Regions from separate parts of the Homo sapiens genome. Here regions 1 and 3 are each linked to region 2. The links come from fine-mapping of genetic effects on gene expression. A gene starts in region 2. Each other region holds a variant in brackets. All regions are shown on one strand. Distances are between the middles of the regions.

Region 1 (2,749 bases), 32 kb after region 2:
GCCCCCTCTAGGACCGCAGGCGGCCCCATGCCCTCTCTGTCCCGGGCCCAGCAACCCTGGGGCTCTTCTGGGCCAGGGAGGTGGCCTCTTTACCCCCAGGGTTCACCCACAACCCCCACCCCAGATGGACAGGGGCCGCCTGGTGGGTGGTCCTGCACCAGGCCAGGCAGCCCGGGACACTGAGTGGGCCCAGGGTGGGGGTACCTTGCACACACACCGCGCTGGGGAGGCCTCGAGGAATCAGAAACACACGGCCGAGCAGCCCAGTGCCACGCCACCAGTCCACAGGCGCTCACCCGCAGCCACCACCAGAGCAGACCCAGACAGCAGGGACCTGCCGGGCGCTCCTCCCTCCACCCGCACCATCCCTGCTGGGGACGTCCATCTGTGTCCCCACCACCCTGCCAGGCTCACTGGCTATCCAGGCCCGGAGGCTCCTGCCTGTGCACCCAGCTCTCCAGGTTAAGGTGCGCCTGCCAAGCAGGGAGCTGCTCCCAGGAGAGTGTCCCCTCCCCAGCCCGAACCTGTGGCCTGGAGGAGCTTGGCCTCCCTGAGGTCCACACCCGCAGAGCTCAGGGGCCTTTGTCACCCCCAATGCTGGTGATGAGGTGCAGGCCCCGGGACAAGGCCATGCTGCTCACTCGCCTCTGTGTGGTCAGCACTCTGGACAACCCAGCATGGGTGGGGATGGAGGCGGGCCCTCAGCATTGAGGGACTTCCTGGAGGTGGGGGCTCCTGAGCTGGGCCCCAGCGTGGGAGGGAGCATGGCCAGGCTGGGCCCTCTCCTAGAGGAGGCTGGGAATCCTGGTCAGTGCCCGACCTGCCCCACCTCTCAGCTGTCGAGAGGGTCCACAGTGTTCCCCTGGGAGGCCACACCTGGCCGGAGGGCAGCCCAAGCTGGGCGGATTCAGGCTGGATCTCCCCCGCCCCAACGTGCCCACGGCACAGCTCATTTCCCTCTGCGCCAGGTGCTGGCTCCTCTGCCAGGAACATGAGCTCATTTCACCCTCTCAGGCAGGGTAGGGCAAGGCAGACCCCAACCCACAGGCGACGGGCCTTTCTGCCCCGCCCCAGGTAATCCACTCAGCTGGGGAACGGTGACCTCCCCTCAGCCCAGAGGGGCTCTGATTCGGGAGCCCAGGACAGCGGGCAGGGTCCTGCCGGGCAGCCGGATGGGCACGGTGCAGGCACAGGCTCAGGGGCAGCACAGGACGCCTGCCCCGCCCACCAGCCAGGGGTCAGGCCTCTGGAGATCCCGGGGAGGGCGCCCTCCTCCACATAGGCCTGGGAAGAGGAGGGCGGGCGATGATGGTTGTTGTCGTTGACTCGCTTCTCCCACTTCTCCGAGCTCAGGCGGCAGAGGCCTGCCT[C/G]CTCACCAAGCAGGAAGCGCCAGGGGCTCTCCCCTCGGGCTGCCGGCCAGGCCTCCTCGGCATTTCTGGGAACCCCCTCCCCACACGCCCAGAAAGCAGGAAGGCACCTCTGCCCCGAGCCCAGGCTTGTCTGGTCCCAGGTGCCCCTCCTCTGGCTGGGGGCCGCTGGGTGTGGCTGAGCTGCAGGGGTGGGAGAAGGCTTCCTGGAGGAAGTGCCCGGGGCCTCGCGGGGCACCAGCCTGTGGGGACTTGGGGTGCTGGTGGTGAGGCCTCTTGGCAAAGGGGAGGAGGCAGAGGAGATGGGAACCAGGTGGGGGGCTCTGGGGTCCCAGCTGGGGGCAGCACCCCCTTCTCTCCTGCTGTCCCCTTGTCCATGGCCAGGTCCTGGCCTGTCTTCTCACTGAAGTCCCCAAGCCCCCAACCTGAAACCCAGGCCCCTGACTCCACCCGCGAGAGGAGACACTCTCCAGGCCAGCCACCACCCGATGGTGACAATCATAGACCAGTGACCTGGGGCTGCAGGAGGCCCCAGCCCTACCTCCAGCAAAGCCACAGGACCCGCACCCACTCCTGTGGAGACCTCAGAGGGAAGCGTGGCAGGGTCCCTGCCTGCTGGGGGCTGGGGGTGGGGGGTCTTAGAGGACTTCAGATCCCAGGAGCCCCTCCCTGGAAAAACCCACAGAGCAGTGCTGGCCCCACCTGGGAGCCCCGTCAAGCACTTCCTGTTCCCGGGCCCACGTGGAGGAGGGTGCCCTCCCAGGGATCTCCAGAAGCCGGAGACAGGCACCCTCCCCACTTTCCATCTGGGACCTGAAACTCCAGGGTCAGGGGCTCAGCATGTGGGCGGCAGCCCCTGGGCACTGGGACCCAGGTGGGTGCCCTGTCCCGGGACCCGAGTCAGAAGCAGCGAGTCTCCAGCCCGCGAGGGGGCCAGGTGTGGGGCGAGGGGCACCCGGGGGTGGCCTTGGACAGTGGCCTTTGGGGCCTGTGCTGTGGAGCATGCAATGGGGCTGGGGACTCTCAGCCCAGGGTGTTGGCACCAGACTGGCTTGGGGAAGTCATAGTGGGAGCCGCCACCGCCAGAGACCCAGGAAGTGGCCACTGGTCTCTGAGCCTCCACAGATAAGACTGGCCTGAGCCCAGCCGTGGCCACCCCCAGCCGTCACCGGGGCCATTGCCAGGTCAGGCATGCTGCCCCCAGCCCGACACCATGGGGAGTTGTGTGTCCCAGCCACCAGCTTGCTCCTCCCCGGCTGACTGCCCAGCCCCGTGCTCCTCCCCAGGGGGAGCCTGGCACCTGGAGTCCTCTGGACTTCAGGCACTGCTTCTGGCAGGTGGGAGGGGACAGCCAGTGAGGATCTGTCACCAGTCCTGAGGTG
Region 2 (2,749 bases):
TCCTCAAACCAGGATGTGGAGGGTCACCCCTCTTGTATCCCCAGAGTGGCAAACCTGGCCAGCCACTGGCCATCTGTCCTCCCAGGGCTGCGTCTGCCCCCGTGTCCTCCAGAGGTACCCCCTTGAAATCCCCCTCCAGCCACTGCACACCCCACCTCCCACCTGTCCGTCATCCAATCAGCTGAGAGAGGGACCTTCCAGAGCCCCAGCTAGCACCTGGGGCCCAGCCCAGCACCCCCCTGGACAACTCTGAGCGTCCCACCTGCACTGCACAGAGGCCCTCCCCAGCCTCTGCCCCTGTGGCGCCCCCAAACTGGAACTGCCTCCAAATCCGCCTGTTCTCTCCACACCCACCTTCCAAGGCCTAGTGCAGTGCCACCCTCCACACAGCCCCTCCGACCCCTTCCGTTGGACTCAATCAACAGTTGCCTTCTCCTGGCCACTGCCCCCAACCACGACAAGCAAGGGCTGCTTGGCCTTGCAACCCCCAGGCACGTGACGGTTCAGGACTTGGTGGGCCGGAGCATCCCTTGCCCAAGGTTCTGAACTTGGGTTCCCGTCACCTGCAAGTCAGTGCCGGCGGCGCCCCTAAGCGCGCTCAGCCCACGCCGCGGTCCCTCTGGATGAGGACCGGCGCCTCTCCCCAGCTGCGCCCAGGCGCTTTCGGGGCCTCGGGGAGCTGGCGGAGGCCTCCTCCTGACCTCCCAGCAAGCCCTGCGCAGGAGAGGATGCGGCCGGCCGGCCCGAGCAGCCTCACCGAGCGGCAGCAGCGAGTGGCACAACAGCGTGGCGGCCGTGCGGCGCAAGTGGAAGGGCACGAAGGCGGCGTCCTCGCTGCCCAGCCAGCCCGACAGCAGGTTCTGCACCGTGAGCCCCGCCGCGTGGAACTCGTTGGGCGTGAACACGAAGCACACGGCGAACACCAGATAGGCGAGAGTGAAGGTCACCTCGGGGCTGTCCATCGCGCAGCCGCCGGGAAGCTGTCGAGCTAGGCCCCCGCCCCGGCGCGCGGACGAGGCCGCAGCGCCCAGTCCCGGACCTGTCGGTTGCGGCGGCCGCCGCCCGGCCGCCCGCGGGGCACTCTAGGACATGGAGTCCCGCCGCCCGGCCGCCCGCGGGGCACTCTAGGACATGGAGTCCCGCCGCCCGGCCGCCCGCGGGGCACTCTAGGACATGGAGTCCCGCCGCCCGGCCGCCCGCGGGGCACTCTAGGGCATGGAGTCCCGCCGCTCGGCCGCTCGCGGGGCGCTCTGGGAGATGCAGTCCCCGTGCGGGTGCGGCCTCTCTTCTCGGCCGGCCCTGGAGGCGGCACCGCACCTGTGCATTGAGCACAGGTGGGGAAACTTAGGCCTGAGCGAGGCCCTGGCCATGAAGCCCCGCCCAGTAGCGTCAGTTGCGGAACTCGAAATTCATGGGGCGACTGCGAGCCCGGGGTCTCAGCTTCAGACACCCTGGCGTGCCCTCCACTCCGGAAACGGAACCGTCGGCGCCCGAGCGGGGGGTGGGGGGGGAGGGAGGGCGGAGCCGGCGAGGCACAGCTTCCCATTGGACGCCCGCCCTCCTGCGGTCCTGCCCCCGGCCGCGCGCTGATTGGCCGCGCGAAGGCAACCGTCGGCGTTTGAAACTCCGGCGCGCCGGCGGCCATCAAGGGCTAGAAGCGCGACGGCGGTAGCAGCTAGGCTTGGCCCCCGGCGTGGAGCAGACGCGGACCCCTCCTTCCTGGCGGCGGCGGCGCGGGCTCAGAGCCCGGCAACGGGCGGGCGGGCAGGTAGGAGAGCGGCTACACGGCGCGGGGAGGCTGGGGTCCTGGGGGCGCGAGGCCGTCCCGCCCCGCCCCGCCCTCGGCCCTCGCCCTCCCGCCCCGGCCGCCGCTTTCCCCGGGAAGCGTCCCCCACGGCTCCTCCTGGGGCCGCCGCCAGAACCTGTACCGCGCCCTGTCATGGGACCCGGCCCTAGACCGACCGCCGGGCTGGGCCCCCTGGATGGTGGCCAGGGGCGGCTAGAGCTGGGCCAAGACCGACGGCGGAGCGGGCGCCCCGAGGTGCTTTGCTCTCCTCGACCCTCTCCTGTCTCTCGGTCGCCCACCTTGGCTCTTTGTTGGCTCCCAGCACGCGGACCCTCCTGTTGTTCTTTGGTCCCTTCCGGCCTCCGTCCTGGGGCCAACTCCATCTAGGCCGCCTGCGGCGGACACCTGGGCCCCTACCGCTTCCCCGCACCTGCTGCGCCGCTCCACCTTCCCCCCGCACCGCATCCCTCTTGTGCACCAGAGTAGCACCAAAGCACCAGCCTGGGGCCGGTCCCTTCTCTGCCCAGAGCCCCTCCCGGGCCTCCATAGTCAGTAAAGGCCCCTCCTGACTAAGGCTGGGTCTGCTGCTCTCCCGAGCTCCTCCAGGCCGCCAGAAGGCTTCCTCCGAGTCACTTTCTCCCTGAGTTCGAGGCTTGCGGGTCCCCCAGCGATCCAGCACCCCTTCCCCTGCCCTGTACCCAGTTATTCAGGGCGAAAACCTAAGCGTCGTCCGTAAGTCCCATATGTGCCAGTGGCCAGGCCCGGGTCTGGTCTGGCATCTACTCCTTGGGCTCCAGAAGCCTGTGGTTTCCCTGCTTCCCTTCTGCTCTTAACCTCCCCACCCACACACAGCACCACAGTGGGCTTCTCAAGCTGCAGCACCGACCTGCCGGGGCTGCCCCCTCTCTCTTCTCCAGGACCCTCCCCAACTTTGCTCTTCTTCAAATCAAAGCCTCCCCAGGT
Region 3 (2,749 bases), 400 kb before region 2:
TCACCCCCAGGCCCACCCGGCCCCACACTCCAGACTCACCTGCAGGCCCACCACGGCCCCACACTCTAGACTCACCCCCAGGCCCACCCCGGCCCCCACACTCCAGACTCACCTGCAGGCCCACCCGGTCCCACACTCCAGACTCACCCCCAGGCCCACCCCGGCCCCCACACTCCACACTCACCTGCAGGCCCACCCGGTCCCACACTCCAGACTCACCCGCAGGCCCACCCCAGCCCCCACACTCCAGACTCACCTGCAGGCCCACCCCAGCCCCCACACTCCAGACTCACCCGCAGGCTCACCCCAGCCCCCACACTCCAGACTCACCCGCAGGCCCACCCCAGCCCCCACACTCCAGACTCACCTGCAGGCCCACCCGGCCCCACACTCCAGACTCACCCGCAGGCCCCACACTCTGGACTCATCTGCAGGCCCCACACTCCGGACTCATCTGCAGGCCCCACACTCCGGACTCACCCGCAGACCCACCTGGCCCCACCCTCTTGCTGGCTCTTGTCCTCGGCATTTGTCCCGCACCTCGTTCACCTTCTCTCAGATGCTGCCCTGGGTGGAGCGGCACCCTCCCACCCATGCCTTCTCCCCACTGCTGCACAGCCTCCCTGCTTGTGTGTGTGTGTGGTGTCCGTCCTGCCCTCCAGGAGGGGAGTGGCGAGCAGCTGCCCAGTGGGCAGGGTGAGCGAGTGAGTCCTCGTGTCCTGGAGGCCCTCATCTGCCCAGACCTGCACAGCACTGTTGCTCTCGGCACCGCTGGGGTATGGCGTCTCGGTTCACAAGCGTGAATGTGATGTGTCACAGCTGTGCCATGAGTTGATCTGCCAGATGGCAAAGTGCACTGATCCTCTGCGGTGACCGGGGCTGGTGCCCCTGGGTGCCCTGCAGTCTTGTTGAGTTTCCGAAGTCTCCAGGTCATGACTCGCAGCCACTCCAGTGTGCACCCAACATTCTCATCGCTGGACGGGGTCGTCTGTGATGCCTCTGCCGTGCTGCCCACTGGGCTGCTGTGGCCCCCATCTGGTGCCATTTTTCCTCCACCTGGGTGTCAGGGAAGGGCATTCTCACCTGCACCTGCCCAGGCTCATGTGACGGACAGTGGGCCAGCACATGTCCGCTCCGGTGCCCTGTCCCACATGCCTTTCCCACCCACCCGCCTCCCTGGCCCCGTGTGCCCGGCTTCCCCCAATGCACAGGCCCTCGCTCCGTGCTGCCCACATGTCCTGGCTGCCTGGGGCGGCCCCCCGTGTGTTCATAGATGACCTAGCCATCCTCTCCTAAACGCCCAGCACACTGTCCTTGGGACCCATGGGGTGTGACCAAGCAACCTGGCGGTGGCTGCTGAAGCATGAGCTGTGGGTGCCCCTGGCCCCAGGGAATGTGCGCTGTGTTGGGGGAGAGAGACGTGAAGTGAAAGAAGGGGGTCCTGTGGTGGGCACAGGCCACGCGTTCCACAGAAGTGC[G/A]TAGAGCAGGGTGGATATGGGAGTGCTGATGATTCTAAGGCCAGTTGGAGTAGGCCTCAGCAGGGTGAGACGGGCTACACTCAAGGTGTTGGGGTGCCCTGAGCATGTCTGTCCAAAAGAGGGCCTGGAGCTGCTGTGTGGAAGAAGGCGGGCGTGTGGAGCCCATGAGGACTGGGTTGCGGGGGAGGGGTTCTTTCTGCTGAGATGCTCCGGAGGGCGTTGAGCTGAGGAATCGCTTTTGACCACAGGTGACCATGGCACTAGGAAGCCCTGGGGAAGGTGCTGCTGTGGCCGAGGGGGAGCTGCCAGGTTGTGGAAATGTAAACCCCGGCTGCGCTGGTCAGACCTGGACTTCCTGTAGGGGGCGCCATGGAATTCCCACGTGGGACCCCAGTTTCCTACCTGTGCACCAAAATTCCTGTGCACCAAAATTGGAGACGTGACAAACTTAGGAAAATAACCTCATGCTCTGGATTGGAGCAAGGTCCCAGACAATACAGGACAGGAAGCTGCTGCCAAGGGAAGGCCACCCAGGAACAGGACAGGAAGCTGCTGCCCAGGGAAGGCCACACAGGAACAGGACAGGAAGCCTGCTGCCGAGGGAAGGCTGCCCAGGAGGGGCAGAACAGAGTCCTCAGTGTGGCTGGTGCTGTGCGCCTGCCTGTGCTGCCTTAGGCTGGACGCAGGGCTCTCAACCCGTAATCCTAGCACTCTGGGAGGCTGAGGCGAGCGGATCTGTTGAGCCCAGGAGTTTGAGACCAGCCTGGGCAGCAAAGTGAGAACCCTTCTCTACAAATTTTTTTTCAAATTAGCTGGGAGTGTTGGTGGGTGCCTGGGGTCCCAGCTACTCTGGAGGCTGCAGTGGGAGGATCACTTGAGCCCAGGAGGTGGAGGCTGCAGTGAGCCAAGATTGCACCACTGCACTCCAGCCTGGGCAACAGGACAACACCCTGTCTCAAAACAAACAAAAGTCAGCATGAGCATTTCGTGTGAGACAGAAAACCAGTTCACTTAGATGGTTTCTAGTTTCAGTTGACGTACGAGCCTGCTGCCAGCTGGCCTCACATCTTTCATGTGACTCTCACAACCGGAGACCCGGACATTGGAGAAACCCTCAGTAAGAGAGATCCAACTGGGTTCAGACCCCGAGGCTGTGTTGACGGGACATGAGGCAGGATATAGACCAGGAGCCACCTCCTGAAATTTAGAGCAAAACTACAAAACAAGGCCTTTGGGAGACCAGGGTGGGAGCATCACTTGAGCCCAGGAAT

The links. PIP is the estimated chance that this variant, and not a neighbour inherited with it, causes the effect.
Region 1: its variant is fine-mapped to the expression of TACC3 in whole blood (INTERVAL, PIP 0.96).
Region 3: its variant is fine-mapped to the expression of TACC3 in whole blood (TOPMed, PIP above 0.99).

The regions. Positions count from the first base shown.
Region 1 is chr4:1,751,418-1,754,166 of GRCh38, forward strand. No RefSeq gene overlaps it. Among named protein-coding and RNA genes, the nearest start is that of TACC3, 31 kb to the left of the region's middle. RefSeq lists an enhancer at 1,899-2,506. The variant C/G (reference allele first, on the strand shown) is at 1,371.
Region 2 is chr4:1,719,876-1,722,624 of GRCh38, forward strand. TACC3 (transforming acidic coiled-coil containing protein 3) reads left to right here and starts at 1,646. Exons shown (of 16, transcript NM_006342.3): 1 at 1,646-1,768. It overlaps TMEM129 (transmembrane protein 129, E3 ubiquitin ligase), which reads right to left and starts at 1,448. Exons shown (of 4, transcript NM_001127266.2): 1 at 758-1,448. The coding sequence starts at 962. RefSeq lists enhancers at 299-398, 1,481-2,476 and silencers at 989-1,038, 1,049-1,858.
Region 3 is chr4:1,316,918-1,319,666 of GRCh38, forward strand. The region is part of intron 3 of MAEA (macrophage erythroblast attacher, E3 ubiquitin ligase); the gene reads left to right. Among named protein-coding and RNA genes, the nearest start is that of MAEA, 28 kb to the left of the region's middle. RefSeq lists an enhancer at 527-1,027. The variant G/A (reference allele first, on the strand shown) is at 1,479.